2 separate regions of the Homo sapiens genome follow, and region 2 is linked to region 1. The links come from fine-mapping of genetic effects on gene expression. A gene starts in region 1. The other region holds a variant in brackets. All regions are shown on one strand. Distances are from middle to middle.

Evidence for each region.
Region 2: its variant is fine-mapped to the expression of CARD8 in lung (TOPMed, PIP 0.91).

What each region holds. Positions count from the first base shown.
Region 1 is chr19:48,253,441-48,258,980 of GRCh38, forward strand. CARD8 (caspase recruitment domain family member 8) reads right to left here and starts at 2,472. Exons shown (of 14, transcript NM_001184900.3): 1 at 2,352-2,472. It overlaps CARD8-AS1 (CARD8 antisense RNA 1), which reads left to right and starts at 2,235. Exons shown (of 2, transcript NR_040599.1): 1 at 2,235-2,354; 2 at 2,911-4,754. RefSeq lists an enhancer at 2,341-2,580.
Region 2 is chr19:48,230,637-48,235,636 of GRCh38, forward strand. CARD8 (caspase recruitment domain family member 8) reads right to left here. Exons shown (of 14, transcript NM_001184900.3): 6 at 3,767-3,907; 7 at 1,817-1,857; 8 at 1,024-1,174; 9 at 141-370; 10 at 1-64. Among named protein-coding and RNA genes, the nearest start is that of CARD8-AS1, 23 kb to the right of the region's middle. The variant G/C (reference allele first, on the strand shown) is at 2,330.

The sequences.
Region 1 (5,540 bases):
CCCACCCCTCATATGACAGTGGCAGTGATATACCATATACATGGTTATTAAAAAGAATCTGGAGCAACAATATGAATGTCAGACAAATTAGGCTTCAAGAGCATTTCCCTCCATCTTACAGGGGATAAACCCAAAGAAGTTATATTAAGATTCCAATAAAAGAATGCAAGATGACTATCTGTGTAAAAATGTAATCAATGGGGAGCAGGTGCACCTCCAATAATATTAGACAAAATATATTTTACCTAAACAGCATTACTAAGTATAAAGTAGATCACTTCAATAAGAATAACAATTTTAATTTTGTGTATACATATTCACACTTTCAATATGTATATAGTATACACGGGTAGAATGATAAACAGATATAGAATAATCCTCCACTCTTGTGGGAAATCTGTTCAATAGTCTTTCAGCAATTAACAGAATAACAGAGTATCAGTAAAGATATAAAAAATTGACCAAAGCAATTCATATTCTTGACTTAAGTGCCCTAGAATAACAACTCACACAGCCATTGAAGAATCCCCATCATCCTATCTCAAGCATAGAGGAAACACATAGCATACATATGTAGCCACATAGCAAACACAGAAATGACTATCAACAAAGTGGAAGAGTTTAATGCACAGATTAAGTTATCTGAATATATGTACAATGAGTTATAAATAATAAATAATTGAGCCAGGTGAAGTAGTACATGCCTGTAATCCCACCTACTTGGGAGGCTGAGGTAGGAGTTTGAGCCCAGGAGTTTGAGTCTGGTCTGGGCAGCATTGCAAGATCCCATCCCCCAAATAATAAATAAACTAACTAAGTAATCAATAATTGAATGAGAAAAGTTAGCTCATATTTCAATATGTTCAATCTTAGGATATATACTTCTAGGCAACCACTTAGTGACAAAAATTCTGTAGAAATCCATCATTGAAAGTTCATTATGTAAATAAATGTGAAGACTAGATAAGAACCACAGAACACAATGACATTGGAAAAAATGCCACAGTAATTCTTTGAAAAAAGAAATGCAGGCCTGGTGCGGTGGCTCATCCCTGTAATCCCAGCACTTTGGGAGGCCGAAGTGGGCAGATCACAAGTCAGGGGTTCGAGACCAGCCTGGCCAACATAGTGAAACCCCGTCTCTACTAAAAACACAAAAACAATTAGCTGGGTGTGGTGGTGGGCACCTGTAGTCGCAGCTACTCGGGAGGCTGAGGCAGGAGAGTGCTTTCAGAGAAACTTCTTGATCACAAGGGGAAATCTGAAAGTTGTCAGAACAAAATGGAGTCACTTATGTTAAGATAACCCTGACAAATAGAGCCAGGAAGGCCATGAAGAGAGGGCTCTTATCCTTGCATGCCTGAAGATGAAAAAGACTCTACAAAACCCACAACCTTACATAAAGGTCTTCACAACCTTAAAAAAATATATATTTCTGCAAGGAATGCTGCCCAGCAACTGCTGGTCCAACCTAGGACTAATGTCACCCTTGTTACTGATCTTTGTAGCCAAGGAAAATTCTGTTAAAACAATATGCAATCCTCCCCATTTCTGTCTTCCTTTATCTCCCTGAATATACACATAGTTTAATACGGCATGTCTATTCCCAATTGCAATGCTCTATTCCCAAATAAACATTGTTTCCGGCTGGGCGCAGTGGCTCACGCCTGTAATCCCAACACTTTGGGAGGCCAAGGCGGGCTGATCTCGAGGTCAAGAGACGGAGACCATCCTGGCCAACATGGTGAAACCCCGTCTCTACTAAAAAATAAAAAATTAGCTGGATGTGGTGGTGCACGCCTGTAGTCCCAGCTACTTGGGAGACTGAGGCACGAGAATCGCTTGAACCTGGGAGGCAGAGGTTGCAGTGAGCCAAGATCATGCCACTGTACTCCAGCCTAGCCACAGAGCGAGACTCCATCTCAAAAAGAAAAAAAAATTGTTTCCCTTAGGAAGCTTTCATATGTTTGTTAGTTAGGTTAACACTTCTAATAATTAAAGTTATACAGTTACAGTGTAAAATTATTAGTATTAACAACATAAACATTGGTATAAAAATTATTATTACAGAAATTAAAACAAATTGAGTGTGAGAGAGATTATTAAGACTGTCCAAGCCAAGTCACTGAAGTCATAAATTTAAGTTATGACAGGATGCCGAGCTTCCAGAGGGTTTTGTTTTTAACAAGGGAGGGGCCCTATTTCCCCTTCTGACACGCTCATATGAACTTCTCACTTTGTCGTACTCCTTCCTTGCTGACTAAGAGGAACAGAACACAGAGCAGCCTGGCGGTGTCCTACCAACAAGCCTCCGTTTCTCCTTCCTGTACACTAGGGCTCCTGAAACTCACCTGGTAAGCGCTCCAGAAAAGCAGCAGGTGGTGACTTTAGGGTAGGACGGGCCAAATGGGAGAATCCCCTTAGGTCGGTTTCTCTGGTTCTCAACTTCTTTTGAAATAACGCTCGCAGAGGAGGTGGGCTTTCTGAGAACTGAGGGAAGTAAGCTCTCAGGACTTCCGGTCGCCATGATGGCTGTGGGCAGTCAATGGGGTCAGTGCAAGCATCTGGGCCATCTTTAATGTGGGCAGGAAAAAAACACGATTACACTTACTTCTGCAGAGTTTATAATATCCTTGTTCATTATTTAAAATAAAATATCTAAGACATAGGTAATAGTATATTTTAAATAAAATTGAAGCAATATATGAAATTTCTCTGGAATTCATCCAGCCACTCTCAGCTGTTACCACTATCCAGAAACGTCTTAATCCGCCTGCATGATTTATGTATTTGGTTTGTATTTTAAATATCATTTTCTGTAATATTTAAAAGTTGTATTTGCTTGGTATCCTGCTATGCATTCTCATGCAATTTGATTTTTAATCAATATTACTTTTTTTTTTTTTTGAGATGAAGTCTCCGTCTGTCACCCAGGCTGGAGTGTAATGGAGCAATCTCGGCTCACTGCAACCTCTGCCTCCCAGGTTCAAGCGATTCTCTTGCCTCAGCCTCCCGAGTAGCTGGAATTATAGGTGCATGCCACCACGCTCGGCTAATTTTTTGTATTTTTAGTAAAGACGGAGTTTCACCATGTTGGTCAGGATGGTCTCCGTCTCTTGACCTCGAGATCAGCCCGCCTCGGCCTCCCAAAGTGCTGGGATTACAGGCGTGAGCCACTGTGCCCGGCCTTGGTTTCTAAATACTATTTTGAAGTATCTGTGGAGAAATGGTTACTTCGAGGGCTGGGGCAGGAATATATAAGATAACATTGGAACAAATTCTGACGCCAGAACATGAAGAAATATTTGAAAAAGGATGGGGCATATTGACTGAACACAGAAGACAAACATGCATGACCTCAGCCTAATCGTGAGAAAACATCAAAGAAATCCAAATTGATAAACATTCTGTAAAATAATTGGCCATGCTCAGCAAAAGTGTCACAATCACAAAAGACAAGGGAAGAATAAGAAACGGTCACAGCCTGGAGGAATCTAAGGACATAACAACTGAGTGCAATGTGAGATCCTCGATTCGATCTTGGAGAAGAAAGAGGACGTTAAGAGAAATATTGACAAAATTCAAATAAGGTCTGCACATTAGGTAATGGTAAGATACGTTGACATCAATTTCCTGGTTGGATACTTGTATTACATATACTATTATGTATATAATTATTATATTACAATTACATATACAGTTGTATATTATATATAATACAATAAATGTATATATATGATTATAATACAATAAATGTATATATACAGTTTTATATATAACAACTATTATACATATAATACAATTATATATATAGCTAACATCAGGATAGGCTGGTTGAGGATTTATATGAATCTTTGCTAATTTTGCATGTTTAAAATTATTTCAACATAAAAAAATTATATGGGTCATGTAGTTTTTTGTGCAGTTTAATTCTAGGCACCATAGTTTCTGTTTTAATGGGTGTATTTTCTTCTTTCAAGGAATTGGGATAGTCTGTTGTATTAAAAACCTATTCATTTTTGTACATTAAGATTCTTCTGGCCAGGCGCAATGGCTCAAGCCTATAATCCCAGCACTTGGGAACCTGAGGCAGGCAGATCACCTGAGGTCAGGAGTTCAAGACCAGCATGTCCAACATGGTGAAACCCCATCTCTACTAAAAATACAAAAAAAATTAGCCAGGCATGGTGGCACATGCCTGTAATCCCAGCTACTTGGGAGGCTGAGGAGGAGACTCACTAGAACTCAGGAAGCAGAGGTTGCAGTGAGCCAAGACTGCGCCACTGCACTCTGGCCTAAGCAACAGAGGGAGACTCCATCTCAAAAAAAAAAAAAGATTATTTCTCTAACTTACTGGTTTATCTTTTATAGCTTATTTCAGGTGATTTGTTGTGTTTGTCTATAGAGTAAAATAACATGTCTAATGAGTTATAATTTAATGTCCTTCCATTCAATCACTGTATTTCAAATTTATTCCAATATTTTGGAATAAGCTTCCAATATTTTAACTTAAATAGGGAAGGTCATACTTGGTATTTTCCTGACCTCAGCTGGAATGCCTTCATAGTGTTCACATGAACACATTTGGCCTGAGAGAGACTTATTATGCCGAGAATGTGTGTAACCCTTTTTACTTAGGAATTGTGGGTGGAGTTTTTCCCCCCGCCCAAGAATGATTGTTAATTTCCGTCCATCATTTTCCTTTGATTGTTCTTCATCTCGAAAACAAATAATAAAATAATAAAATAAATAAATAAAACTTACTGGTCTTCTCACCTATTTTCTTGCAGTGCCTTTAAGCAATGCTCTGCCAATATCTTTTTCTTAATTATTATGGAATGCATGGGACCGTTCCATGCCTGATTATATGCAGAATGTTCTTTCTACAAGTGAGTTTTTGTAGTATTTCTGTACTCTGCCATACTAGGGCATTTCTCTGTTTTCAAGGATCTCCCAACCACACCGCCTCTACCACATTTATCTCCTGCTCAGCCTCCACTCCAACTGCCCAGACCTCACAGCTCTTGTATTCAAACTCTATCGATAAATCACCGAGTATGAGGCTTTACTCACAGGAAATTACTCTTCTGGCACTTCCTGACTTCTTTATGTTTTCTCACTCTGCACTTCCTCCCTGTTCCTCCGCTATGCTTCACCCTGACTTAACACAGTTTTGTCAGCCAGTGAGAAACATGTGGATCTGTGAATTCTATCTGTCTCCTCGTTATTCTGAAAATGGAGTTTGCATGGACTTTTCCGTTCACCTTATTGCTTTCATTGATACTCAGTAATAGACAAGATAAACTGTTATTTCTCATTGCCTTGTTCATTTCAGAAGTACCAGGTAGAATTTTACAATTCTTGCCTTGATACATATTCCCAGTAATTGTTGAGTGATTTAATTGTATGTTGTCTTGATATTACTTTGGTCATATATTACATTATTTCTCATTTTTGAATATCTGGATTTACATAAATTCTGTGTAATTCAGGTTTGTATTTATCCAAGTTCTCAGAAACTACAACTGCTGTAATTGATC
Region 2 (5,000 bases), 23 kb before region 1:
TCCAGGACCATCCCTTCATTCTTAAAATGGGCAACGAGAAACCAGGAGACGTCCACCTCACCTGCTGCAGGAGAACCACAACAGCAGTGAGACGGCACGCACCCCAGCGGCCCCCACAGCCTCCGCTCACCCCACATTACCTTGGAGGGAGATGAAGTGGGGGAGGTGGATTTCGGCGACAGCCTCCTCTGGCTCTGCAGTGACATCAAACAAGGGGCCGCCCACCAGCCACTGTTCATGGTGCTGCAGGTCCAGGGCCAGGTGCTGACTCCAGGAACCAAACGCAATCGTCACTGTGACCTCATCCCTTACCAGGAAGCCGAGGCCTGTGGCTGACCACAGATACCAGCCAGCAGTGGGGAACCAAACGCTGAAAGGAGCCAGAGTGATGTCATGACGGGAGAACCCCAGGACTTGGATTTAAGCAGCGATGTGCAGAGGGAGGTGGGATTTGAAGTGAGGCAAGGTTCAGGACCCATCTGCGACTTTCACTACATTAGAAAACGCTGGGGAGTTCATTAACCTCTCTGGGCCCCAATTTCTCTGCATTCTATATATGTTGAAATTAAAATACCAACTTCACAGTGCATGAAATAAACATATTATTGATGAAATTTTAGCTATCATAAGGGATGGAACCGATACGCTTCCTTTTGTATTTATATTTTTATTTATTTATTTATTTTGAGACAAAGTCTCGCTCTGTCTCCTAGGCTGCAGTGCAGTGGCGAGATCTCATCTCACTGCAACCTCTGCCCCCTGGGTTCAAGAGATTCTCCTTTCTCAGCCTCCTGATTAGCTGGGACTACACGCGGGTGCCACCACGCCTGACTAATTTTTGTATTTTTAGTAGAGACAGGGTTTCGTCATGTTGGCCAGGCTGGTCTCGAACTCCTGACCTTGTGATCCGCCCTCCTCCACCTCCCAAAGTGCCGAGATTACAGGCCTGAGCCACCACGCCTGGCCTACACACTTCCTTTATATCAGAGTGGTTTTCAAATCATCAGCATCTTCCATTCTTACCTGTATCTGTTTGTGCTCTTATCAATCAACTCAACATCCACATTTCCTTCAGGCCCCAGAAACTGACGATTTTTATAATCTTCTTCGATCTCAAAACAGACTTTAGAAGCATAAGAGGAAACTATTTGATTCTCTTCTGAGCAAATGTCTCCTGAAAAGAAAATACTAGACATGTAAGAGGTAAAGGGTTGGAAGAGGCATGGCCTGAAGGACTCCTGGAGGCTGAATTGCACAGGTGCTGTTGGGATACAGATATCGAATGAGAGCTGAGAGTGACCAGAATATGCAGTTTCGCTTCTTTGAATCCAGACAAAGAAAGGCACAAGAATGTTCCTTGTCATGACTAAACGTATACACCAAATTCCATAAGACTTTCTGGGAAGCCAGGCTGGACAGCTTTGGTGGGAGGCACCATTTGCTGAGGACTGGAACCAATGCACCTACATTTCTACTGGTCCGAAATAGCAGAAGACACTTTCTGCTGGTGAGGAAAGTCCAGGTCAGAAAAGTATCGAACTCCAAAGATGCAGAGGCGAAAGAGCGTGCATCCTTCCTAGGCCCTGCTGCTGTCCCCAGCCACCAGGACCACCCACTGACTCCCCTGAGCATTTCCATGCCCCAGCAGTGACAGGCTTACATGTCCCCATTTAAACTGCACAGTGCACTGTGGCAAAGGTAAGGGAAAGCACTCCTGATCTGCACAAAAGACTCTAAATTGTCTTCTTCACATAAAATCACAGAACATTTCCATCAATCCACACGCCCTTCACTCCTCTCCCTATTAGCCCATTACCTGAATCTTGTCCCTCTGAAGATTCCTGCTCTTCTGATACACTGGAGGTTGGGATCCCCATGTTACAAAAAGATGAAAAACATCAAGAATCAGTTGATGAAGATGAAGACGATGTTATTGAAAACTAGAGCTGCACTGTCCCGTAGAGTAGCCGCTACCCGGATATGCTATTTAAATTTGTATGAATTAAACTTAGGTAAACTTTAGTTTCTCAGTTGCACTATCCATATTTCAAGTGCTCAACAGCTACATATCACTCACGGCTATAACACTGTGTAGCAGAGAATGGAACACTCCCGTCATCACAGAAAGTTCTCTTAGACTGGGCGGATCTAGACTATCAAGAAATAGAAGACATTTTGAATGAAGATATTTTTATCCACATTTATAAATAATAGAGATAACACACTCCCTTGAGCCAAATGTGTCTTGACATCTCTCCTTCTTCTCTTTGTATTATGCCCACGTTCAATGTGGACACAGCCAGATTCTCTGGCTTAAATTGATTGCTCC[G/C]ATTGGTATCATACGATGTCGGAATCAAAGACTGAAGCAGTAATTCACCAATGCGTAAAATGTATGCATTTATATTCCAAGGTAATTCCAAACTTGACCACACCTGGGAAGCTTTAAAAACCACCCAATACCAGGTCACAGCCCACATCAATTGAATCAGAAGTCTGGAGGTGGCACCAAAGCATCGGCGCTTTCAAAGCCTCACAGGTGATTCCAATATTAGCCAATATGGGTTCTATGACATACAGCGTGAGCCAATGGTTCGTCATGCCTCTGGAGAGAAACCTGCCCTAACACAGGTGATACCTTCTGGAGCAAGGCAACCAACTCCATCAAATTCTCTGCCTTTGATCCATTCCTTGAGATATCTGTTTATTTCGACGTGAAAGAGACCAGCAGAGAAACTGACACGTGGATTAGGTTTAAAAAGAACAGGTACCTAGAGAAGTGGGATGAAGAGAAAGGCTTTACAGCGCTTTTCTCGGAAGGATTCTGTGGGCAAGCCAAGCATGGAGAGACCCCTGGGCTGACATCCTAAGACTGGTTGCTGTCTGCGGCTACACATTTTGCTATGGATTCGGGTAGCTACAGGCAAAGCAGCAAGAGTAAACATGCCATTTTATATTCTCTTTCCTGGTGCATGTGCATGCTGGAGTCTGCCTGCTGAGGAGGGGTTTAGAAAGTGGGAGGAACCCAGCGCTGAACTGCAGACAGCGCATCCCAGATCATGAGAGCTGACGGTTCCATTTTCAGGGCTTTTGCAACCAAGTTGTTCAACACAACCATTAGTCTAAATTAAATGATACAAGCTAACATTTAAATAAATCATATTAAAAACAAAAGTAATACATATTAAAACATACCAATTTCCAGTCATTTTTCTACACTTTTCAGCAGTCTATGCCCTTGAGGTTATTTATGTCTCTTGTATCTGTGTGGTGAAAGCAGGATGACAGACTTCTGCATGTGTTCTTTCAACTCCCTCATCAGGGGCTTCACGTTGGTAGTTTGAAATCTGCCATGATGGGGATATTCAACCCTTGGAAATTGGCATACCCTACAAATAGACGCATTCTCCCCTCCCCGGTGTTAAACCTCAGGACCCCACTGTGGCCTTCAGCCTCATCATCAGCCAGTTTCCTAGAGAATTAGGTTGGTTTTATGTATTGAGTAACAGCTTAACCAATAACCCACTGGTCTTCGATTGCATTGCTCATTGCCTTTTTGTGTATAGGTTCTCTAGACACCTCCATGGAAGAAAACCTCATTGCTTAAGGTTTGTTTCAAAAATTTCTGGATTCATTGCTAGTATTGCATAAGCTCATTCATTCTCCCCTGAGTTCGATGAAAAACACCCAAATTCCTCTAATTCTCATGTTCCTCTGTGATATTGAGACACAGCGTCCAATAGTTTTCCAACGGAATAGCTTTTCTTACCTGGGAATGTCCCCCCCAGATAGTTGACACTCAGGAACAGCACGGAACAATAATGGCTCTGCCTCTGTCTCATCATCTTCTTGGAAAAAATGTGAGATGTCACAAAGGGTCTCAGAAACACAGGGTAGCTCCCTGTATACCCTGGAAAACAACAACAGAATTTTTACTATGAATATAAGGTAGGTGCCTGATGATAGCATAGGCTGTGCAGGAAGATTTTATGTTAATAGCCATAGACTCAATATTTTATCTTAGGGAAGTCATTCCTCAGGCCCCTACGACTCCATCTCACCTCTCAGACTCCCATGACTCTTTCTTACATCTCATTATGTTAAATTTAACTGGCTCTCTGTTTCCCACTATATGCTGCTCTTTCCATCCTAGGAAGCAGACGTCAGTCAGTTCTCAACATCTAGCATTTGCCACAAACATTGGTTTCATAATAGGTCAACAAGTATGTTGACCTATATAACCTTGCTAAGAATTTTAGGGAAAGGATGAGATTCCTAATTTGTAGTCTCCCTTCATCCATAATTGGTGCCCGAGAGAATAGGACCCTAAAATGATTGGGATTGCAGGGCATTAGTGAGATTGGGCATGTTTTATAAGAACCCATGGAACAGTTATCTCCTCTTCTCCCTTCTGCCTGCAAATGGTGAGAGGGGTTGCATAAAGCAACAAAAATGCTCACAGAAAAAGAAAATTATGGATATTGTACACACTTTCTTTTCCCATCAAGGATCCTTATTCAGATATGGAACATGAGAGTCCTATGCTAGATCCTTTTCTCTTCTTCATTTTTGAAGGCTTGGTGCTGTCCTCCTATGGCTGGCAGGAATCAAGATTGAGGTTAGGAGTGATGGAGTGTCCTTTATGCCAAGATATTCAATGGCCAATATGACAGCCACTAGCCACACCTGCCTATTTACATTTAGTTTTAAATTGTTAAATGTGAAAATCAGTTCCTCCTTTGAAGTAGCCATATTTCAAGTGCTCAAAAGCCACACGTGGCTCTTGCCTGCCACCATGTAAGACATGCCTTTGCTCCTCCTTTGACTTCTGCCATGATGGTGAGGCCTCCCCAGCCACGTGAAACTAAAAGAATTTTTCTGGGTAATGGACATAGGCATAGGACGTCTGGCAACAAAATCTGCTTTGAAGAGGACTCCAGGGAATAGAGATGAGGTCTCAGGCTGGTCTTGAATTCCCGGCCCCAAGAAATCCTTCCACCTTG